7 linked regions of the Homo sapiens genome follow. The protein of the gene in region 6 purifies or fractionates together with the protein of the main gene of each other region. This does not show direct contact. Each region holds a gene or a part of one and is shown on either strand. Other genes may lie near its edges. The genes, in order: STRN, ZBTB10, ARK2N, SLMAP, SLBP, GOLGA8G and MOB4.

Evidence for each region.
Region 1: the proteins of GOLGA8G (region 6) and STRN purify together in Homo sapiens (affinity purification with mass spectrometry; one large-scale study listed by BioGRID and IntAct). This does not show direct contact.
Region 2: the proteins of GOLGA8G (region 6) and ZBTB10 purify together in Homo sapiens (affinity purification with mass spectrometry; one large-scale study listed by BioGRID and IntAct). This does not show direct contact.
Region 3: the proteins of GOLGA8G (region 6) and ARK2N purify together in Homo sapiens (affinity purification with mass spectrometry; one large-scale study listed by BioGRID and IntAct). This does not show direct contact.
Region 4: the proteins of GOLGA8G (region 6) and SLMAP purify together in Homo sapiens (affinity purification with mass spectrometry; one large-scale study listed by BioGRID and IntAct). This does not show direct contact.
Region 5: the proteins of GOLGA8G (region 6) and SLBP purify together in Homo sapiens (affinity purification with mass spectrometry; one large-scale study listed by BioGRID and IntAct). This does not show direct contact.
Region 7: the proteins of GOLGA8G (region 6) and MOB4 purify together in Homo sapiens (affinity purification with mass spectrometry; one large-scale study listed by BioGRID and IntAct). This does not show direct contact.

The regions. Positions count from the first base shown.
Region 1 is NC_000002.12:36,851,537-36,855,036, forward strand, and holds part of STRN (striatin), read right to left. Parts: intron 1-3,500. UniProt on the Homo sapiens protein: Calmodulin-binding scaffolding protein which is the center of the striatin-interacting phosphatase and kinase (STRIPAK) complexes.
Region 2 is NC_000008.11:80,520,726-80,524,225, reverse strand, and holds part of ZBTB10 (zinc finger and BTB domain-containing protein 10), read right to left. Parts: 3' UTR 1-3,500. UniProt on the Homo sapiens protein: May be involved in transcriptional regulation.
Region 3 is NC_000018.10:46,240,034-46,243,533, reverse strand, and holds part of ARK2N (protein ARK2N), read right to left. Parts: coding exon 3,347-3,500; intron 1-3,346. UniProt on the Homo sapiens protein: AMPK substrate important for exercise capacity and skeletal muscle function.
Region 4 is NC_000003.12:57,927,309-57,930,503, reverse strand, and holds the end of SLMAP (sarcolemmal membrane-associated protein), read right to left. Parts: coding exon of another isoform or gene 3,116-3,195; 3' UTR 501-3,115; downstream 1-500. UniProt on the Homo sapiens protein: Associates with the striatin-interacting phosphatase and kinase (STRIPAK) core complex, forming the extended (SIKE1:SLMAP)STRIPAK complex.
Region 5 is NC_000004.12:1,695,320-1,698,819, forward strand, and holds part of SLBP (histone RNA hairpin-binding protein), read right to left. Parts: intron 1,033-3,500; coding exon 883-1,032; intron 1-882. UniProt on the Homo sapiens protein: RNA-binding protein involved in the histone pre-mRNA processing.
Region 6 is NC_000015.10:28,526,472-28,529,971, forward strand, and holds part of GOLGA8G (golgin subfamily A member 8G), read right to left. Parts: intron 2,775-3,500; coding exon 2,736-2,774; exon of another isoform or gene 2,463-2,735; coding exon 2,415-2,462; intron 2,327-2,414; coding exon 2,242-2,326; intron 2,147-2,241; coding exon 2,037-2,146; intron 1,018-2,036; coding exon 928-1,017; intron 822-927; coding exon 714-821; intron 519-713; coding exon 431-518; intron 41-430; coding exon 1-40.
Region 7 is NC_000002.12:197,543,566-197,547,065, reverse strand, and holds part of MOB4 (MOB-like protein phocein), read right to left. Parts: intron 1-3,500.

The sequences.
Region 1 (3,500 bases), on a different chromosome or scaffold from region 6:
TGTCTTTAGTTCATTTATTCTGTGACTGTTTTCAAAATTTCAATGTTAGGAAAGAGAATTGCCTGATAAATCTGGAAATATTTATAAATTACAATTTCCTGCTATATGTGGGTGCCATCTATGGCTTAGTCTAGAGCCACTAACGCTGTTCATTCTACAATGTTCTGTGAGATTTTGCTACTTTAAGTAAGTTCTATCATCACTTACATGGAGATAATTCTCAAATTTAAATCTCAGCTCTTTTTGCATACAAAGTTCTGTATCACATCATTATCATCTAAAGATATATATGACAAAGAGGGCTTCTTAATCCTTAAATCCCTTTATCACTCTTCCTCATCATAATAGAAATGGTCATTTGACAGAACTAGGTTTGGAATCCTAAAAGTCAGCATCCTAACTGTATTTTTTGTGTTAGTAAGTTCCAAAGAAACTTCAATTATACACACAATGAGACAGGCAAGCACATATCATTAAGCCTATATTACAGTGAACACATCAAGGTTCAGAAAAAGTTGTGACTCCTCCACAATCAGGTGACAAAATCAGTACCTATTCTAACTTCTGACTCTCTCCCAACCTGATGGTTCATGCAGATCACACAACTGTCAAAATTGGTTCCTAAATGATCACACATTCTTCCTGAAAGGCTTTTATTAAAAAGAAATCAGTAATTTAAAACCTCAGTGATTTCTGTTAAGCTTTTTTTAAGAGAAAAGAAAAACTGACATAAAGAAAACACTAATTGAAGGTATGTCAAAGTTTTAAAAATTAAATTATGGTCCAGGGAGAGGAAGGGGTGTCCTTGTAAAATATATTACTGGAACAACTCTCAAAATTTGAATATAAATAGTAATTCAGATAATAGTATTGTGTCAATGTTAAGTTTCCGGATTTTGATCATTGTAATACACTACATCAGAGAATGCCCTTGATCTTAGAATTACACGCTAAAGGATCTAGGGGAATAGGAGCATGACGTCTCTCATATGGTTCAGAATTAAAAATTATACACATATATAGAGTGAAAAAGCAAATGTGACAAAATGTTAAAAACTGCTAAATATGTGTGAAGGGTAGCCAGAAGTTCTCGTACTATTTTTGTACCTTTTCTGCAAGTTTAAAATTATTTCAAAATAGAGTTTAAAAAATTTTTTGAACCCTAGAATAGGTATTACAAGTTTATATTCACATAATAGAAAATACAGCTAAAAATAGTCTAATCTTACAGGATTTTCATGTGGCTCCTAGAAATATAACATCTTAAAAACTGAAGACAGTCTTTTCCCAATGCTAGTGGCAGGTAATTACCCAGCCTGTTATTTAAATATAAAATGTGGCTGGGCACGGTAGCTCACACCTGTAATCGCAGCACTTTAGGAGGCCGAGGCAGGCGGATCACTTGAGGTCAGGAGTTCGAGACCAGCCTGGCCAACATGGTGAAACTCTGTCTCTACGCAAAATACAAAAATGAACCAGATATGGTGGCACACGCCTGTGGTCCCAGCTACTTGGGAGGCTGAGGCAGGAGAATCGCTTGAGCCCAGGAGGTGGAGGTTGCAGTAAGCTGAGATCGCACCACTGCACTCCAGCCTGGGCAACAGAGCGAGACTCTGTCTCAAAAAAAAATAAATATAAAACAAAAACTCACTTGACCATGTGGAGTAAGTTCTTAGTCAGTTACACCTGGTTTAGATCCTAAACAAAGAGATGTTTATTTATAAAATTCAGACTACGCATTATTTCCTCCACAGATAATACTCCATTGAGCAACACCCGTGGTAAAGTCCAGCAAGAGAATAACAGTAACAACAAAAAAAGAAATACTTTAAGTGAAATATCCCATATATTCTGAGAGAGACGTTTCAGAGAATAGCCTCAATTGCTTTGAGAGCTAGAAAATAAATATGATTGAAATCAAATCATGGAAACAGGCAAAAGAAAGTTCTTATTTGGTAACACTTTTAAGGAAGCTTCTCCACTTGATGATAAATCAGAGAAGTCGGCAGAATGCAAAGAACACTACTCATACCTAGCTTGTGACGTATCTGCTTCAACTACCTTTGACTTTACCACAGTCAAATCGCCATTGACATCAATGAGAAGAAGGGTAATTTATTCCTATTCTAACAAACATCCTTCATCACTTTAAACTCTATATAAAACTCACTTTCTCCTTGAAGCTTGTTTGGTCCTTTCATTTTTTTAAAAAAATATGCTAAATTCCAAAACAGAACAACACAATCAATTATAAATAACAAGGGGTAGTTCACAGTAAAACATAATAAGAGACTAATTTAAGTTTTCTTTATACAACTTTAAAAGTAAAAAACATAATTTAGAAAATGTCAGGACATATTACAACTCAAAATAATGATCATTTATTCCAGTAATGTTGCCTTTGTTAAAAACATTCTTGGAAGTTTTCTCAAAATGTTTCCAGTGTCAAGTAAAAAGTCCTATTAATTTAGAGTCACATCTCTTGGGGGAAAATGTGGATTCACTCGCCTAGTTCTCTTTATCCATCTTATCTACCAGACTTGACATCTTATTAACCTGCAGTCATTAAAAAGCACTATTTCCACTCAGGATGTTCACAAATTGGCCATATAATCTCTGAAGGTAATTACAAAAATGTTCTCATCCTTTCTAATTTCATATTAGTTTTTTATTTTGCTACTGTAGCTTTGAGTCATATATTTAAACATGATTTTAAATTTATTGAGAGTCTAAAACCTGTAATTTCTTGCTGAAAAAAATTCTCCTTTTCCAATTCTATCACCTGAGTTTAATTTATTTTCCTGTCTCTCTCGTTTACATCCAAGTAGCTCAAAGTTCTATTCATGCTTACTTCCCCAAACAAGTCTCAGCATATCAGAAGAAAACAATGAACAACAGGTTAGGAAGGGAAAATGATGAAAACCACAAAGGAATAAAGAAACTTTTTGAGAGAGAGAGAGACAGAGAGTGAGAACACCACAAGAACATATGTAAACATATGCATGTACATGTTCACACATGCATGTGCACACACACAACATATCATCACTTTTAAAGCTAGTTCTCAGATTAAAACAAGAGTATATGTATGTCGTATTCTTCATCAACTGCAACCTAAACTGTGATTGTCTAGATTATGGCTAACGACAGAAAGCAATGGTTAAGAAAGCCAAAAACCAAAAAAGAGTCTGTAATATCTTCTTCATAACCTGAAAAAGCACTTATTTCCTGACTTCCTGCATCCAATAAGAAGCTTCAGGTTTGGAATTCTGAGTGCCACAACATGATCTGTATTGAGCTGTACCAAATCATACTATTAATATAAAATTAAGTTGATTTAAAATATGAAATTACGAGAAATGAAAAATAGAATTTCCTATTCAGAATAAATATGGCTTTCTTCAAATAGAATTGAAAATTAATCATTTAGTATAAAATAAAACTTGACCCATAACAGCTCAAATGCTATTTCAAACAGTATAGTTATAAATGTACATAAA
Region 2 (3,500 bases), on a different chromosome or scaffold from region 6:
TATAGTATTCCATAATTCAAACTTGTAAGCCTTAAGTACAAAGATATCTGAATTATACATAAGTCAAAGTTCATTAAGGTGTTCCCCTTACCCCAATTAGTCTAAATTAGTACACTTGCAAAGAAATCTGAATTAAATGTCAGTCAATAAAATTCACAAAGCCAGAAGCAGTTTAGTGCTCACAAGTTTATATTTTTAGGTTTGAATAAAGATTCTTGTGTATTTTCTAAATACACAGACAAAACAGTTCCGGAAGTTTACATACATGTCTTAGGACACTTATATTAGGTAGGTAATTTACATTTTAAAAAGTTGGTCTTCGTAAAAGATCTTCCCAAAGAGCTTTTACAAACAGCAGGCGGAAGTGTTCTTTTGTTTACAGTGTTCAAAATGCCAATGCTCCCACTAAATAATGGCCTCAACCATCTCTCCTCAACCCAAAATATTGTTCTCAATAGCTAGTGTACTCCAAATTTAAGTACCCAATGTCATAAAATTTAGGGCTAGAAAACATCTTTTGAAGTGTGCTTATCCCTAACACATTTTAAACTATCTAGAATTCTTTAACTTCAGTTGAAAGCAGAGATACAGCAGGAAAAAAAAAAAAACTTTCCATTTTAAGTCCTAAAGTGACTAAACACCTGTTAGTTCTAAGTGTGGATATTATGTACCATAGTTAAGTTTAAGGATCTGGGTGACTGAACGGCACAAAAACTGGGGTTTCTATCTAGTTCTTCAGATAAAAACCATTCTTTTATAAAATTAAAATGCCACAGCCAGTTAAGAGCATGTGCTACACTGATGTGTCTTAATATAGTCAAAGTGACAAAACAACTGCTTTATGAAGAAAGAGTAGTAAGGAAATTTATTGGGGGGAGGAAAGACACTCAAAATTCTAAACACAGCTGTCTTATAGGAAAAATATAATCCATAGACTCCATTAAGAGCTGAAATTCTACAAGAGTTGTTTAATGAGGCAGCAATAGAGCCTCCCTGAAAGAGTATGGGCTTCAGAATCAGACGTGGTCAAATTCGAGCTCTGTCACAGCTGTGTTAAATTAGCCAAGTTTCTGAATTTCTCTGAGCCTTTCCTCATCTATAAAATGGAGACAATTAGCACCTACCTTATAGAGGATTAAGGTAAAATCATGTATACAGCACAACGGCAAGTGTGGGCACTCAAAAAAAAAATTGGTAGTTTTTTTAATCGTTTTTCAGAAAAATGAATCTAAACCCTTCATGCTATGTTCAGAAAATCCTAAAAAATATAAATAAAGCTTACTAAAGTTTTAAAAATTAAGATTTTTAAACCTATTTTCCATCACACTTTCCCCCGTATGATACTACTACAGTGATATTCAGGCCGTTTACACCATTTTGTATTAATATAAATGCCCAAGTCCTAATCCTTTCATTTCCTATTTTCTCCTTCCTTTCCCCCATCTTTTCTTATTTCTTTTTCCTCTTGGTTCTTATCTATTATTAAACAACTTTAAGATGTGTTATGCACCTATTATGTACCAGTGTTCTAAGCACTTTACATGAATTAACGCATTTAGCTCACTCTTCTCCATTAGGATAGCTGTACCTAACCCAGCTAGTGTGTTTTCCCCAATTTCAAAGCTACTCATTACTGTTCAGTTTCCCTTTCCTATAACGTTTCTTCTTTTTTAAACTCTTAATTGCTAGTGTGCTAAATTTAGCAAAATATCTAGTAAATAAGAAAAATGAACAGGGGTCCATATGGAAGTATCTGTCTCTGAGAACTCTAATAATGCACAATCTTGATTTATGAGACGGTCTGTAACTACAGAGTGAATATGAAAGAAAGTTTATACTCTTCCCCTTCATTAAAAGCTCTAAAATACTTTTTCATTTAAAATATAAATTACAAGAGACAACTTCGCCAAATGTGTAACATAATTCTGCCAGAGTTCCACAGACAAAATTATGAGTATTTCATTGTTACCTCTGAGACCAATCATAAGTTCTTAGTATCTATCAACTTCCTGAAATTTTACTGTAAGTCAGAAAAAGAATACACTTAAAAAAATAGAAATGTCCAGTAGTATACCTTAGTACTAAAACTATTTTTTTAAAAGATCTAGATGGGAAAAGGCAGTCCCTCGAGATCATGAAACAAAATAAGTTAGGCAGTCAGCAAGTAGAAAAATCTGTCAATTCTGTTTCCGGTAAAATGTTTACTTCAAAGAAATTTTTATATAGGCTGAGGCTAATATATTCAAGAGTATAAACACTTTTCCTTTGGATTACCTAAAAACAAACTTTTAAAGTATCATATTTCAATTGACTAAAAATATAGCCAAATCTGTCACAACACAACATAAAGTAATGGACAATTATAGAATATTTTAAATTAACAGTAACAAGCCATCTACATCAAACCTTATTTCCAACTAAAACCAAACAAAAGCACAACAATCCCGTAGTGTACCAAGTGTGTATTTCAATTTACTGTATGCAATCTAACAAAAATTTGGTCATAATTTACCAGATATACATAAATGATTTAAGTAGTAAAAGAAAATTCAGCTTCAAGAGAGTAAGTTCATATCTTGAGGAAAAGTAAAAGTACATTAAGAATGTAAAGCCAAGTCCAGTTTCTATGCAATAAGTGAACTGTAGTCTAATAAAGCAGATTTAGGTGATTTTTAGATATATATCTTTGTTCTTTAATATATATTTATATATAGACAGATCTACCAATTGTAAACTAGTTTATTTAAAGGAAGGGGATAAATGGGATGAAAGAAATCTTTATACTATACTTACATATTCACAAAGAACATTTTACGTTTAAAATACTTTTTCATTCATAGTATCTTTGCCCAACTAATTTCTACCAGAAATACATTTTACTCATTTGTCTAGAACATTAAGAAGTACTCATCTGTTTTAAACAAAAATCAAACCGAAACTATTCTTATCTGTCAGGTTTACAGTTATGTAGAAACTACAATATAGATGACAAAAGATGCATCTAACCATGTAACTGTAATTTATCTTTGATTTATCCAAGCAGAAACATCATTGTCTAACAATAAACCATTATTCTACTGAAATCAGAGACAATGATAAAGCTTGTCTCTTAAAAAACATCAACTTTTCAACTTTGATCAGATGGAGCACCAAAGGGATTATATCTGTCAAAGCATCTTTGCAATTTTTTCCACATAACTAGCATAATTTAGTTACCTGATATAAAATAGGAAAATATACTCAATTTTTATTTAAAAGAAAGCTGAAAATATGACATCCCTCAATCTTATATAATATACAATATGCTAATAAATGCCATACATGTTAACAATACGTGAAATGCTGCTGAGAGTTCCACAATCAGCTAATTCATGTCACCAGGCTAAGTAAATCTGACAATTTCACCTCAATATGTCACCCTTTGTACCCTGAAGAATTTATAGAATAATAAAGCTTCTCAGAATTTTATTTGTAAGATTTTTGAGACTGTTGAATCATGG
Region 3 (3,500 bases), on a different chromosome or scaffold from region 6:
ATATATATTTTGGATGCAAGATAATCATCTAATTGCTTGGAAAAAGGCAACCTACTCTATCTTTAGTGCGTACCTATGTGATCCTAAATGGGATGGGGCTGTGGACCTGGGTTGAGATGCTGCTGTTGATTAAAGTGAACCCCTGAATAGTCTGCTCAATAACTAGGCTTGCTATTTTGTTGTGAAAGGGAAAGACAGGACCCAGATTAACCATTAAAATTTTAACTTACACTCACACCATAAGAATGACCATCTGACTAATAGTCCAAGCCTCAAAACTATTAACTGGCTCCTAAGCATAAATTCTATTAATATTTTATTGAGACACTGTAAGCACATTCAGATATCTTCACAAGATGAGTTCCACTATGATAATCACATCAAGACTACAGTATTATTTTTATTTATTACCCACATACCAGTATTGTCAGATTTAAGAAAAAAAAATGCCTTTGAAAGAGCCAATAAGCTTCATAACAAAATGTCATGGGGATCTGCTGAGCAGTGGTGACTGCATCCTATGATATACAGAAACCTACACAAAATTTATAGTCCAATATGCACAAATGCTCTCTCTATATATTAATTATATCCTAGAGAAATTATCATATACATATACCAAAAAACACATAAAGAAATGTTAAGAGCAGTATCACTTAAAATAGCACCCTAAATGTCCAACAAGAGAATGGGTAAATTGTGATATATTCATATAGTGGAATACTAAATAGCAGTGGAAAATGAATGAACTAGAGCCACACATAACAACAACAAAACTCATAAAATGTTTAACTAAAAAAGCACATTTCAAATGATTACCTTCAATGTGATACCAATTAGTTTTAAAAACATGCTTATTTAGATATATAACAAATGTAGTACAAATATATAAAGAAATACACAGGAATACCACACATTAAATATCCAATTTAGGATAGCTTTGGCATGGGAAGGGCAAAGGGAAGGAAAACATCTGAAGCCACAGTTGTTTTCCTCCTCACATACTTTTACCACGTTTTATTTCTTAAAAAGAATGGTTGTAGTTTCTTAAGAGTGATTTTTAAATAGGCTAACAATTACTTGAATCTGAAAATGTGAATGCCATCCCAAAAGCTAAACTTTAATGATATTTTAAAACCGCAAACTTTGCATTATTCGGTCAAGTCATAAGAAATGGCTGATTTTTTGTAGGTCAAAAAGTCAAATATTAACAATTCCATACGGTTCAATCTAATATTAAGAATTCTGCATATGAAGAGCAAAACGTTGGTAATCATTCATTTTTTACCCCAAAACTTTACCATAAAATGGTCTATATTTAACGGCAAGACTCAGAAAACAGAGAAATAAAACTGAAGTGGAATGGATGACTTAATTGCCAAAGGATGAAAAACAAAGATAAACCATCTAATATACAAATTACAAGGCTGGGTGCAGTGGTTCACGCCTGTAATCCCAGCACTTTGGGAGGCCAAGGCAGGCGGATCATCTGAGGTCAGGAGTTCCAGAGCAGCCTGGCTAACATGGTAAAACCCCATTTCTACAAAAAATTAGCCAGGCGTGGTGGTGCGCGCCTGTAATCCCAGCTACTCAGGAGCCTGAGGCAGGAGAATCGCTTGAACCCAGGAGGCGGAGGTTGCAGTGAGCTGAGATCGCGCCATTGCACTCTGGCTTGGGCAACAAGAGCGAAACTCCATCTCAAATAAATAAATAAATAAATAAATAACTTAGAAACACATATTGTACAAAATGTGGCCAAACTACTTTCCACTGATATAAAGCATTATTACTTCTTTTTTCTTTTTTGGGGGGATACAGTCTAGTTTTGTCACCCAGGCTGGAGTGCAGTGGCACAATCTTAGCTCACTGCAACCTCTGCCTCCCAGGTTCAAGCAATTCCACAGCTGAGATTACAGGCGCCCACCACCACGCCCACCACCACACCCATCACGCCCAGCTAATTTTTGTATTGTTAATAGAGACGGGGTTTCACCATGCTGATCAGGCTGGTCTTGAACTCCTGACCTCAAGTGATCCTCCCACGTCGGCCTCCCAAAGTGCTGGGCTTACAGACGTGAGCCACTGTGCCCAGAAGCATTATTACTTCTTTTCAAAGTATTTGTATTAATACATATTAATAAATCCTTAAAAGACACTTGTTGGGCAAAACAAGGATTTATACATATAAAAACTGAAGTCCAGAGGAGAAACAACTGGTCCAAGGACAAACAGGCAGCAGTTACCAGTCAAAAAAAATCAAAACTAAATTCAGGTTCAGTTCCAAAATTAGCTACAGTAAATCAATCAGGTCAACAAACAAGTGATTTTTCTGTAATTCCAATCAAAGATTATGAAAGGAATAATTTAAGACAACAACAATCAATGGAGTTCTGTCTCAATATAAAAAGTTCTAAACTATAACTCATTTTTTTGTAAAACTCATTTTTCATAAAAATAACTTTAGGTAGTGATTAAACTATTAGATTAACTCATAAAACCAATGCATTTATAAATTAACTAGAAAACTATAATCTTTCAGCAACACTGAAGAAATTATACACTGCATAAGCAGTCTCTCAATCCCCTTCTCTTCTTAAATGTTCAGTGCTAGTATTTTCACAACAACAACAAAACAAGGTTTAAATTAGAATGCTGAAAGAAACTTTTGAAGAAAATATTGAAGAAGACTTGGAGGTATTGTGAAAGTTTTTCAAAGGTAACAGCAGTGGATTTTTTAGTGAATAAATACCACCTTAAAGAATAATCACAAAACTAAAAAAATGTAAGACAGGGACAGAGATTTTTTTTCCTGAGCTAACAGAGACAGAAACTAAAAGAAAGGAGTTAGAAAAGACAAATGAGAACTTACTGACGAGGAATTAACAGGGTCACTCCACAGCAAGAAGCACAAGAAACAGCGGCAGCGCTGTGTATGAACAGCCAGCCCCACAGGGAGAGATTCAACGATTCCCTATCCAAGCTGCAAGGTCACTACCCAGAATTAAAGTGAGAGAAAGAACTGGCCAAAGAATATGAGCATATCTGGGTCATTTTTGCAAATATTGGGCATTTTTAATCCAAGAAATATGCCTACTGAAACCTACCAATACCTACAATTAATGTCTTAAATGCTCTTATTTCTACTTCCTTCTGAGTAGGAAAGATGAATGACAAGCTATCCAAATTGTTTCAGGTATAAATGGCAGCCTGGATAGTCACAACCAATCATTCAATGCCAGATGTCTCTGGTATGACCTGTTCTCCTCATCAGGGTCCACTACAAGGAAAACAGCTCCAGGACACATGCATATTACACCGTTAGAGAAGGGGGATGGGGAAGACCAACCTGCCTCTGCATTCAGCTCCTCTAGAAGCCCGCTGGTCCTCCAGGTAGCTCCTGTGTCCTGGCCGCCTACAGAATTACTGTGCTCTTGAACTACTGCAGCCGCCAATAAATTGTCCACATTTACCACTTCTGGGTCAGAGTTGGTGTCAGACAT
Region 4 (3,195 bases), on a different chromosome or scaffold from region 6:
GCCAGGCTGGTCTCCAACTCCTGACCTCAGGTGATCCACCTGCCTCGGCCTCCCAAAGTGCTGAGATTACAGGTGTGAGCCATTGCACCCAGCCAAGACTGCAGTTTTAACTCAGTTGATTTGCATGCAGTTTTTTCTCTTTGGTAGCAGATTCCCATCCTTTTGATAGTAGATAGTCACTGGAAGCAGCCAAGAGTCACCAGATTTTGGTCAAGTGTAGTGATTAAAGTGAGAGATCAAGTAGGCAATACTAGTTTTGGTTGAAAGCCTCTGACTATAGGGCAACGTGAATGGTTTTCACATGTGACTCAAAGTGGCTCTAAAGGCAATAACAACAGGAATTCCAAAACCATTGTGGGCAATTGGTTCATCACCAAACCAAGCATATTACTTCCAAAAGAGTGAACTATGAAGGCGACAAACAGAGCTAGGTGATAATGCTTTCTCAGGATTCATAATGTTACACACATATCTCACTCATACACAGAAATTCTGAATGGTTGAGTCAATCAATTCATTTAATTAAAGTAGATTAAAGTTTAGGCTTACCTAAAACTTTAATATTTGCAATATTTTTTCAGTATGACATTCTCATAAAAACGTATTCACCACTCGAATGGTACTTCACATACATTATCTTTTTAATGTTCACACTACTACCACAAATATAAGTATTATTCTCCGCATGTTATAAATGAGAAAATGGAGACTCAGAGAAAATGTGATTTGCACAAGGCAACAACATCTGATAAAAGGTAGAACCAAGATGCCAATACAGATCTGTTTTGCTTCAAACACCACGTTCTTTTTATTCTCTAACCCTGCCATGTAGCACCTTTGAATAATTCTTAAATGTATCATTACAGGGTTGTTCAATTTTTAGCTGCAATGCTTAATATTTCTTAATGACTCTATTATTACCAGTGAATAATCCTATTCTTTATTTAACGTGGAAGTGAACTGAACAAAACTGAAGGTATTGCTTATGAACAGACTTATTTCTATTCTTGAGGAAAACTGGAAGTAACTACAAAAAGCCATTTATTCCACTTGAATGAAGTAAATATTGATACTAGACCTTACATTTAAAGAGACCAGTCTAGCAAGTGACTCTCATTTTAACAATAACCATATTAAAAGAGAAAAAAATAAAGCAGTAAGTTAAATAAAAGGTTAATAAAACTTGGAGGAAACAGCTCAGTGTTTTCTTTTAAACCCTGAAGAATACCAAATGTATGTTATGTTGCATAAAGAGTCATGTCAAGAGAAGACTATTAACAACCCAATAGTAGAGTCAGCATTAAGAACTTCAATGATATTCAACTCAAACATGCGTAGGGAGAGTAAAGTTATTTTATTAAATCATGCACGTCACGTGTGTTAGTGCAAATAGTTTAATCTGTACTCCAGAAATTCTATTGTACTTTATATCTTTACAAAATAGATTTAAAACAATTATTTACTTTAAAAAATGTAATTCTGAAGTTAAGCATTTCAGAACAATATTTGCAATAACCTATATACAAGAGGTACTGGGTACCACTGGCATATTAGCATTCTGTGGTGGAGTGGCTTCCTGCAACAGAAAATGATGAAATGAACTATATGACAGTATTTTCTACAAGTCATTTGTGACTAATTCCTCCATAAATCTAGTGATCTTCCCAAAAGCAATCTCAAATAGCTTAAAATATAACCTTTAAAGTATAAACAGTGACTGCCAAACATCACAAGGCAAATTATACCCTAAACTCCTATTTCAATATTTGGCTAGACCTGTGGATTGCCACAGAACATTCAAGCCAATTCACTGACATTCCCTCCCGGTCTTCACTGACTGAAAAATTTAACTATGTGATACTTTAGGATATTCTATGACCTAAATAAACTTTATTGACATAACTATGATGCCGCACAAAACCATGGCTAAACTTTCACTTGTGTTTTAAATTTATAATATCAAGCAGTGTTTTTAGGTGCTTCATTGTGCATAGAACACTATTAATCTTGGGAATAGTGCTTTTCATTAACAGAAAGTCCCAATTAACAACAATAAAAAGAAAATAACCATTTGCATACCCAACCAGGAAATTTGTTGGTAGGTACAACGCTCACCCTGAACATGAATTAGCTCTGACACATCATAAACCAAATTAGGTCAATACAAGCTTATCTAAAGAGATATTAATACTTTCTTCAATTAAACATGCTTGGAGGAATAGATGATAGAAAAAAAAAATCATGCTTCCTAAAATGCTGTATATGAGAAAGTAACTTGGCTTTTAAAGAAAAATATCTCTTTAAATACATGGTTTAATAAATTACATTCCAATTGACTCAACATTTTGGTTGACTGCACTGAAATTGTGTAATTACTATGTTTTTGCTCCCAGAAATACTTCAGTTTGCTCAAGAAAATACACTCTCATGGAAAGTTTTTCAAAGTTGATGTCCTCCACATCTTCAAGTCACATTAAGGCTGAACAAGCGTGCACATATTCCCCAAATTATCACCATAACAGTTTATTTTCCAAACGTATTTTTCCTTAAAAAAAAAAAAATCCACGCAAATAGTTGTCTCTAAGTCTTGTTCCCAATAGCTCAGTGGTTTCATAACAAGTAAAAATGGCGTAAATATGTAAAAAATATATATATGTGTATATATTTCAAACTGATAGGCACTGAGCACACAGGGCCTCTCTTCCCATGTATGTATTGGTTGTTTGGTTTGGGTAGTTATCAAATCAGAAAAATGAATTATCTGGTGATCAGAATTCAGAGTAAAATACTCATAAATTTAATGTTATAAATAATCTGGTGTACCAAGAAGCCTACTTTAGGCCACCATAATATTCAGAATCTTAACATACTAATTTAAAAATTACATGAAAAATTGCAAGCAAATTATTGCTTACAGTAGAATAAAGTCACAATTTTATATCTTCTTTATAGACAGATACATTTTATATAATTTAAAGCAATGACCCTACAGCTGTATTCTTGTACTTCTGCTGTTTTAAGAGGTAAAGAGGAAGAAAATGGTTCTGTTTGTCCCCAGCATGAGTGTGATGCCAGCTTCTAGAGGGAGGACGGTGTACGGACTCAAGGAACGCTCTCATGGAGAAGCTCTGGCCAGACCTGGCACGTACAGCACGATGGCTGTTACTGCAACCAGGGCAGCCAACATGGGCATCC
Region 5 (3,500 bases), on a different chromosome or scaffold from region 6:
CTCTAATTGTTTGTTTAAAGAATGTGTCTGAGGAAGCGAGAGGCTCAGGACCAGAGGGGAGCTGAGAAGAAACCCCACATAGAGGGAGGGAGGTACACGATCATTCTCTCTACCTTCCTGGTCAGCAGGTATTGCCATGATGCAGCAAAAGTTCAGGCCTGAGACATTTCAACTAGGCACAAGTTTAAAGGCCAACGGGGCTGGGAGCAGTGGCTCACCCCTGTAATCCCAGCACTTTGGGAGGCTGAGGCGGGTAGATCACAAGGTCAGGAATTACATGGTGAAACCCCGTCTCCACTAAAAATACAAAAAATAGCTGGGCGTGGTGGCGCGTGCCTGTAATCCCAGCTACTCAGGAGGCTGAGGCAGGAGAACCACCTGAACCCAGAAGGTGAAGGTTGCAGTGAGCCGGGATCACGCCACTGCACTCCAGCCTCGGTGACAGAGCATCTCCCAAAAAAAAAAAGCCAACAGAGAAAGAAAGCCTTCCTTCCTTAATTAAGAACTTTTATTTTCATGGTTGAGCCGAAATGACTCAAATACTTTTTAGGATATTTATATTTAAAAAACAAATTCCAGAGATTATTGTAATTTTTAGGGGAAAAACAACTACAACAACAAAAACAGCAAAACAACAAACAAAAACTGTATTCCCAGATTGACTTTGCTTGAAAAAATAAATTCAATCCAGGAAGCAAACTCTTCCTTCCAGCTGCCTCCCTCCCAGTACAGAAGAACTCAGCACCGAGCTGCAGCAGCTGCTCTGCTCCCCAACAGCTGCTGGGGGACTTGGCACCAGACCTCCTGTCCCAGTGGTGCGCAGCTGCTCCAGTCACTGGACCAATCAGAGAATCACAGGACAAGAATGCAATAAAGACATACATTTCTTGCAAATCACATCCTTCTTCCGCTGGAGGATCCCAAAAATGCAGAGCCACCTTCCAGAGTTTGATTTGCTGGTCCCATGAACGTCGACTATACTTCTTAAATTTATTAGGGGTCTTGGGATGAATGCCAGGTTGTCGAAGGTGTCTACAGGAGAAAGATTATTCTAGCACATGCCCACATGCCACTCACATTTCCACATTAGCCTGAAGATTAACCAAACTATGAGATTAGTATTATTTTAAATATTACAGATCACCAGGCATGGTGGCTCATGCCTGTAATCCTAGCATTTTGGGAGGTCATGCCAAGATCACTTAAGCTCAGGAATTTAAAAATGGCCTGGGCAACACAGTGAGACCTCGTCTCTATTTAAAAAAAACAACAAAACAGAACAAAAAAACAGCTAGGGGCTGGGAGCGGTGGCTCACACCTATAATCCTAGCATTTTGGGAGGCCAAGGTGGGTGGATCACCTGAGGTCAGCAGTTCGAGACCAGCTTGGCCAACATGGTGAAACCCCGTCTCTACTAAAAATGCAAAAATTAGCCGGGCGTGGTGGCCTGTGCCTGTAATCCTAGCTATTAGGGGGCTGAGGGAGGAGGATCGCCTGAACCCGGGAGGCAGAGCTTGCAGTGAGCCGAGATCGTGCCACTGCACTCCAGCATGGGCAACACAGCGAGACTTCACCTCCAAAAAAAAAAAAAACAAACGCTGCTGGGTGTGGCAAATCACTTGAACTCAAGAGCCTGAGATCAGGCTGGCCAACATGATGAAACCTCATCTCTACTAAAAATACCAAAAATTAGCCAGTCATGGTGGCTTATGCCTTGAGTCCCAGCTACTCCAGCGGCTGAGGCAGAAGAATTGCTTGAACCTGGGAGGCGATGGTTGCAATGAGCCTAGATCATGCCACTGCAACTCCAGTCTGGTCAACAGAGCAAGACTCCACCTTAAAAAAAAAAAAAAAAAAAAAAAAAAAAAGCCGGGCACAGTGGTTCACGCTGTAATCCCAGCACTTTGGGAGGCTGAGGCAGGCAGATCACCTGAGATCAGAAGTTCAAGACCAGCCTGGCCAACAGGGTGAAACCCTGTCTCCACTAAAAATACAAAAAACTAGCCAGGCGTGGTGGTAGACACCTGTAATCCCAGCTACTCGGGAGGCTGAGGCAGGAGAATCACTTGAACCCATGAGGCGGAGGTTGCAGTGAGCCAAAATCGTGCCACTGCACTCCAGCCTGGTGACAGAGGGAGACTCCGTCTCAAAAATAAATAAATAAATAAAAAATCAACTGAGATCCTACAAAATGAACAAATATGTTTAAAAAAATTAAAAAATTAAAAAGCACTATCCGGGCCGGGTGCGGTGGCTCACACCTGTAATCCCAGCACTTTGGGAGGCCGAGGCAGGCAGATCACCCAAAGTCAGGAGTTCGAGACCAGCCTGACCAACATGGAGAAACACCATCTGTACTAAAAATACAAAAAAATTAGCCCAGGCATGGTGGCGCATGCCTGTAATTCCAGCTACTTGGGAGGCTGAGGCAGGAGAATCGCTTGAACCTGGGAGGCGGAGGTTGCGGTGAGCCAAGATTGCACCATTGTACTCCAGCCTGGACTAGAGTGAAACTCGGTCTCAAAAAAATCACTATCCGCTGGGCACAGTGGCTCACGCTTGTAATCACAGTACTTTGGGAGGACTACTTGAGGCCAGGAGTTCAAGACCAGCCTGGGCGACATAGGGAGACTCCCATCTCTATAAAAATTTAAAAGTTTAGCCAGGTGTGGCGGCATGCACCGCTGGTCCCAGCTACTCAGGAGGTTGAGGTAGGAGGATTGCTTGAGGCCAGGAGTTAAGACTACAGTGAGCCATGATGGTTGGGCGTGGTGGCTCACCCCTGTAATCCCAGCACTGTGGGAGGCAGAGACAGACGGATCACGAGATCAGCAGTGCGAGACCAGCCTGGCCAATATGGTAAAACCCCATCTCTACTGAAAATACGAAAATTAACCAAGTGTGGTGGCAGGCGCCTGTGGAGGCTGAGGCAGGAGAATCGCTTGAACCCGAGAGGTGGAGTTGAAATTGCGCCACTGCACTCCAGCCTGGGCAACAGAGCAAGATTCCGTCTCAAAAAAATGAATACACAGTGAGACATGATATAACACTGCACTTCAGCCTAGGTAACAGCAAGACTCGGTCAGGAGGGAAAAAAAAAAGCACCATCACATTGAATCTTACTATTCCTTTGCCAGCTATGTTCCAAAAAAGTAAAAAAAAAAAAAAAAAATTGTTTTTTTTGAGATGGAGTCTTGCTCTGTGACCCAGGCTGGAGTGCAGTGGTGCAATCTCGGCTCACTGCAACCTCCTCCTCCCAGGTTCAAGTGATTCTCCTGCCTCAGCCTCCCGAGTAGCTGGGACTACAAATGTGTGCCACCACGCCCAGCAAATTTCTTGTATTTTTAGTAGAGACGGGGTTCCACCGTGTTAGCCAGGGTGGTCTCGATCTCCTGACCTCATGATCCGCACTCCTCGGCCTCCCAAAGTGCTGGGATTACAGGCATGAGCCACTGCACTCAGCCAAAAGTAAAATTTTTTTTTTTAAGAGACAAAGTCTC
Region 6 (3,500 bases):
TCAGAGGGCACTGCTGGGGGCTCCGGGGGCAGAGGTTCAGCTGAGAAAGGAAGCAGACAATAAGAGCCTCTGGATTCCAAAAAAAAAAAAAGAAAAGAAAAGAAAAGAAAAAACCCTCCTCTTGGCGCACAGCTCCTCTCCGGCTCCTCAAACTTAGCCTCACTGCTAATGATTCCTCGCACCCAGATGGTAGCCAGTCTTCCAAAGCACTTTCAGAGAAAGAGCACTGCGGGTGGCTGACAACGGGCCCTCTTTGCTGATGGGGACACTGAGGCTCATTGAGATGACAAGACTTGCCGTCTCCTGGCACAGACCTCTTTCCCTCTGCCTCAAAGCCCTTCCATCCACCCACCTCGCTGGGGCACTCCAAGCCACCCTCACAGCCCTCTGATGCCAGTCCTGCTGCCAGGTCACGCCAGCCCCATCTTACCCATCTGGTGTTTGAGTTTGGACAAGCTCCTCTCCAGCTTCTCTACCCGATATTTATCATGCTTCTTCTCCTTCTTCAACGAGCAAACCTGCCCAAAGCACAGGGGGAAAGGGCCCTGGAGAGAGGGGCTGGAGGCTGGACATGCTACCATCTCCCTCTCTGCCCCCACCTCCACAAAGCCCAGTCCCAGGACCACCTCTGGCTCTACTATTCCCATTTTACAGGTGCCCAGAAAGATCCAGTGACCTATCTAATGTGGGGGGGCTGAAGGGTCAGATCTCACCTCCTGCGACATTTTTCTCATCCTCTGCTGCCACCGGGCCCTCTCTCCTTTTAGATGTTCAGCATATTCATCCCTCTCTAGCTGGACTTCTTTAAGTGACTCCTTCAACTGCAAGAATGGGCACAGAAATTAGGAAGGGCTGTCACTGGTCCTCACCTGCTCCTGGTTACCTGGGGTCATCTTCCTTCCACATCCCTCCCTCTGAACACCTCACCTGTGTCAGCTGCGCTTTCAGCAGTGCCTGCTCCCGCATGGACTGCTCTAACTTCCACTCCATACGTGCTTTACTGCGGCTGGAGAACTGCTGAAGAGTGAGAAGTTTCAATCTGGTGAGGCCGGGCCATTCCACACAGTGCCCCTTAAAAGGGCCAGGGCTAGGCCCAATATACAACTCGGTCAGTAAAGATCAAGGCATTTCCAAGCCCGTGGTTTGGTTTTTAAAGAACTCAGTAAAGTTGGAAGGGACAGGGAAAGAGATCGAATTTATAGCTGGCTAACAGAGGCCCAGAGAGATCAGATAATATTGCTATTGTTATTACTGTTATTATTACCACTGTTTGAACTTTTATGGAGTGCTTCACCAGATACCATGCTAGCAATCCCATTTAATCCTCGCAACTACCATGGGAGACAGTTACTATGATGACCTCTATTGTGTAGATGAAAAAACATGGAGTATTTGAGGTTAAGTGCTTGCCTAAGATCACTTAGGCAGAGCTGGGATTTAAACACCCAGATCTATCCAATTCTCTAAGCCCATTTTTCTTGCTGGGGGTGGGGGCACAGCTAGGAAGGGGAAAATTAATCTTTTGTTCACTTTTTGAAAGGATAATACATTCACATAGTCCCAAACTCAGAAGGTACAGAAGGGAAGTATCTCCCAGCCACCCTGTTGCTCTCTCCTGAGTTTTTATGAACACTTGCAAACATATTTTATGTATATTATCATAATATGTACACACACACACACGTTTCCTCTCTCTACAGAAATGGTAACATACTAAAGGTACTCTTCTGTACCTTCACAGTACAAGTACCCAATACCCACTGAGGACTTGGCCAAGACCACAGCCAGGTAAAGGCATGGCAGGCACTTGGCCTCCAAGCTCTACGTCCTGTGCTCTCTCCCCAGAGTGCCCCCCAACTCACCCACAGCAGCTGACTCAGTCCCAAGCTGCCGCTAACAACCATACAAAAAAGCAGTGAGAAATGGCCATGCTGCCTTCTGGGCAGGACACTCCATCCTGCAGAAGGGACCTTTAGGCTCACTCCTCTGTCTGCGAAGCCAGGCTCCCAGGGGACGGGGCAGGTGGTTGGACTCACCCTCTCCGCCTTCTTCTTCTGTGTGGCGGTGACAGCAGAGAGAGCCCGCTCTAACTCTCCTTTACGCTGCAATGAATGTTGCAGACGGACGGCCAGATCCTTGGACTCTTCTGTAATGAGAGAGTTGAGATGGGGCCCAAAGGACTCCCCCTGAAGACCTGTCAAAGTGCCAGGTTGAAGGATGACAGGGTACCCAGATTCCCACCTTCAAAGTATCTGAGAGAACGTTTCGTGTGGTACAGGTCCGTATTTAGTTTCCCTTTCTGTATGTTCAATCTCTGGATTTGAACCTTTGGGAGAAAAGCCAAGCAAGTGCTGAAAGAGAAGGAAAGAAACATTCTCCGGAGGACAGGAGAAAACTGCACACCGTCCACTCACCTCTAGCTCCCTTTCGGCTTTCTGTTTCTCGTTGTTTGCTTTCTTTTCCTGTAGGAAGAGGAAGACAGAGATCTAACCAGGCAGAGGCAGAGATGGTACTGCAAGAGACATGTCCCCAGAATGCCACCACTGCCCCTGCCCCGGGACAGGCCCACCCATGGGACCGGGTTATCAGGGACCCTGTGGGGGATGGGGTGGACTCTGGGGGGTGAGCCTTCTTCCCCAGGCTGGGAGTGGGTGAGACGAGACTCGGGGCCTCTACATCTGAGTGTCCCCCAAACCGAGCAGTCATGTCGCGAGCAAACAAAGAAATCATGTTACTTCTTCCAGCTGATGTTCCACTTGTTTATTCTGTTGTTTCTGTGGGGAGAGTCACATTAAGGTGATGGAGGGTGGCCCCCTCAACTCTATTCCCCAGAGCAGGAAGTGGTAGGCAGGGGCCAGGAATGGATTTTAAAGGCAAAGTTCTCAGACCCAGTGGGAACTCGAACTGGTAAACTCTCCTCAAGCTCCCAAGGACAGAGGATTTGGGTCTTTGTTGGCTTTTGTCCACAGCCACAGAACTCAAGGTCTGAATCTGGAATCTCTTGACAGGACAGTAACATAAACCTCTAGAGATGGAGTTTGAGAAAGGCCCCCCCTTCTGCCAGCTTGTGATTTAGAAAAGTGCATTCATTCAATAAACATTTACTGAGCACGTACGGGCCAAGTACGGTTCTTCACAGAAGATTTAGGGCGGAAAAGGACAGACAGGAGCCTTTGGCCCTGAGGTTTCCATTCTAGGAGGCCTTTAAATCTCAGACTCGAGAGCTAACAGAGACCTTTGATACTCACTACTTCCTCTGGAAACATGAGCCCAAAAAGGAGAGGTGGCTTGTCCAGAATCAAAGAGCAAATTAGGGACTGAGTCATGGCAGAAATACGGGGCCCCTGACAACCAGTCAGGCTAGCACTTCCCCAAGAGGCAACAATCCCAGGGCGTGTGTAGCAAGGACTCGAGCAGGGGCGTCTGGAGAGGGGAGAGTCAGCAAACAGGGCAGCAAAAAAAGAGCCATGCTGCATGCTCCGGGGTCCCTCCAGGTGAGG
Region 7 (3,500 bases), on a different chromosome or scaffold from region 6:
CTATGTTGACCAGGCTGGTCTCGAACTCCTGGCCTCAAGCGATCCTCCCATCTCAGCCTCCCAAAGTGCTGGGTTTACAGGCATAAGCCATCACGCCCAGCCCCTTATGATTTTCTGAATAACATTTTCTCTAGCTTCCTTCATTGCAATACACTATATAATACACAGAACATACAAAATGTGTGTTAATCGACTGTTATCGGTAAGGCTTCCAGTCAACAGTAGGCTATTAGTAATTAAGTTTTGGGGGAGTCAAAAGTTAGATACTCAGATTTTCAGCTGCACAGAGGGTTGGGATCCCAATCCCGGAGTTGTTCAAGGGTCAACTGTATAATGCAAGCCATATATTTAATTTTAAATTTTCTAGGCCCAATGTGGTGGCTCACGCCTGTAATTCCAGCACTTTGGGAGGCCAAAGTGGGAAGATCACTTGAGTCCAGGAGTTCAAGACCAGCCTAGGCAACACAGGGAAATGCCCCTATCTCTACAAAAAATTTGAAAAATTAGCCAGACATGGTGGCACTATGATTGTAGTCCCAGCTACCAAGAAGGCTGAGGCAGGAGGATTGCTTGAGCACAGGAGGTCAAGGGAGGTAAGCCAAGATCAGGCCACTGCATTCCAGCCTGGATAACAGGGTAAGATTTCGTCTCAAAAAATTAATTAATTAACTTTCTAAGAGATACATTAAAAAGGGGATAACGTGAGGCCGGGCGCAGTGGCTCACGCCTATAATTCCAGCATTTTGGGAGGCCGAGGCAGGTGGATCACAAGGTCAGGAGATCAAGACCATCCTGGCTAACACGATGAAACCCCATCTCTACTAAAAATACAAAAAATTAGCTGTGCGCAGTGGCAGGCACCTGTAGTCCCAGCTACTCAGGAGGCTGAGGCAGGAGAATGGCAAGAACCCGGGAGGCGGAGCTTGCAGTGAGCCAAGATCGCGCCACTGCACTCCAGCCTGGGCAAGAGTGTGAGACTCCGTCTCAAAAATAAAAATTAAAAAATAAAAAATAAAAAGGTAACGTGAAAGAGGTGAAATTAATTTTAATATTGTAGTTTGACCCACTATATCCAAAATAATACCATTTCAGCAGGTAATTGATATAAAATTAATGGGCTACTTTTTGACTTTTAAGATATAATTGATACAACTAAAATTTACTCTTAAAAATTCAGTAGTTTCTAGTATATTCACAAAATTCTGCAACCATTACCACTAAATTTCAGAACATTTCAGCATCCCAAAAAGAAACCTTGAACCAATTAGCAGTCACTTCCCATTCTCTCCTTCCCCCAGCCCTAAGCAACAACCAACCTAATTTCTGTTTCACAGGATTTGCCTATTCTGGATATTTCATTAAAATGAAATAATATAATAAGTGGCATTTTGTGTCTGGCTTCTATTATGTTTTCAAGGCTTATCCATGGTGTAGTATGAATCAGTACTTCATTCCTTTTTTTAAAATTCAAAACTTTTTAGCCTTTAATGTTTTTAATATATACAAAATGCCGTACTGTATGTTTCTCCCTTTAAGACTTCATTCCTTTTCATGGCTGAATATTATTCCATTGTACACATACAGTCAGCACTTTGCATCTGCAGATTCAACCAACTGCAGATCAAAACTACACTTTAAAACCCCATAACAATAAAAAATAATACAAATTAAGAAATACAGTATAACAACTATTTATATAGCATTTATATTGTATTCAGTATTATATGTAATCTAGAGATGATTTAAAGTATATAGGAGGATGTGCATAGGTCATATGCAAATACTATGCCATTTTATATAAGAGACTTTGGTATCTGTGGTTTTGGTATTCATGGGGGTCCTGGGACCAATCCTCTGAGGCTACTGAGAGATGGCTGCAACACATTTTGCTTATCCATTCATCAGTTGATGGATATTTGGTTGTTTCCATTTTTTGGCTATCATAAATAATGTGACTGTGAATATTCATGTACAAGTCTTTGTGCAGATAAATGTTTTCATTTTGGGGGAACTACATATCAAGGAGTGGAATTCCTGGGTCGTATGCAACTCTATGCTTACCATTTTAAGGAACTTCCAAACTGTTTTTTGAAATAGCTGAAGCATTTTACAATCCCATCATCAATGTTTAGGGGTTCCACTTCACATCCCCGTCAGCACTTGTTATTGTCTATCTTTCCTATTTTAGCCATTATAGTGGGTATGAAAGTATATGCCATTTGGGGTTTTGATGCTTTTTTCTTAACATTTTAAAAAATTGTAGTAAAATATATACACCACAAATTTTTCCATTTTGACCCTTTTTTTTTTTTTGAGACGGAGTCTCACTCTGTTGCCCAGGCTGGAGTGCAGTGATGTGATCTCCACTCAGTGCAAGCTCCGTCTGCAGGGTTCACGTCATTCTCCTGCCTCAGCCTCCCAAGTAGCTGAGACTACAGGCACACGCCACAGCGCCCGGGTAATTTTTTGTATTTTTAGCAGAGATGGGGTTTCACCGTGTTAGCCAGGATGGTCTTGATCTCCTGACCTCGTGATCCGCCCGCCTTGGCCTCCCCAAGTGCTGGAATTACAGGCGTGAGCCACCGCGCCCAGACAGCTATTTTGACCATTTTTAAATGTACAATTTAGTGGCATTAATTTACAATATTGTGCAACCATCTTCACTGTTTCCAACTCTCAAACAGAAACTATTATGGCCAGGCATGGTGGCTCATGCCTATAATCCCAGCACACTGGGAGGCCAAGGCAGGTGGATCACTTGAGGCCAGGAGTTTGAGACCAAACTGGTCAACATGGTGAAACTCCGTCTCTACTAAAAATACAAAAATTAGCCTGGCATGGTGGTGCACGCCTGTTGTCCCAGCTACTCAGAAGGCTGAGGCAGTGAACTGCTTGAAACTGGGAGGTGGGGGCTACAGTGAGGCAAGATTGTGCCACTGCACTCCAGCCTGGGCAACAGAGTGAAACTCCAGCCTGGGCGACAGAGCGAAACTCTTGTCTCTTAAAAAAAAAAAAGAAAGAAACTCGGCTGGGCGCAGTGGCTCACATCTATAATCCCAGCACTTTAGGAGGCTGAGGTGGGCGGATCACATGAGGTCAGGAGTTCGAGGCCAGCCTGGCCAATAGGGTGAAACCATGTCACTACTAAAAATACAAAAATTAGTCAGGCGAGGTGGCACATGCCTGTAAATCCCAGCCACTTGGGAAGCTGAGACAGGAGAATCGCCTGAACCTGGGAAGCGGAGGTTGCAGTGAGCCGAGATTGCGCCACTGAACTCCAGCCTGGGCAAAAGAGCAAGACTCTGTCTCAAAAAGAAAAGAAAAGAAAAAAGTCTATTACCCTTAAGCACTAACTTCCCATACCGCCCATCCTTTGGCAGCTTCTACCTACCTTCAAATGTCTATATGAATTTATTCACTCTAGATAAGTGGAATGCTACAGTATCTGTCCTTTTGCATCTGACTTGTTTCACTCCACATAATACATACTGGATTTTAAA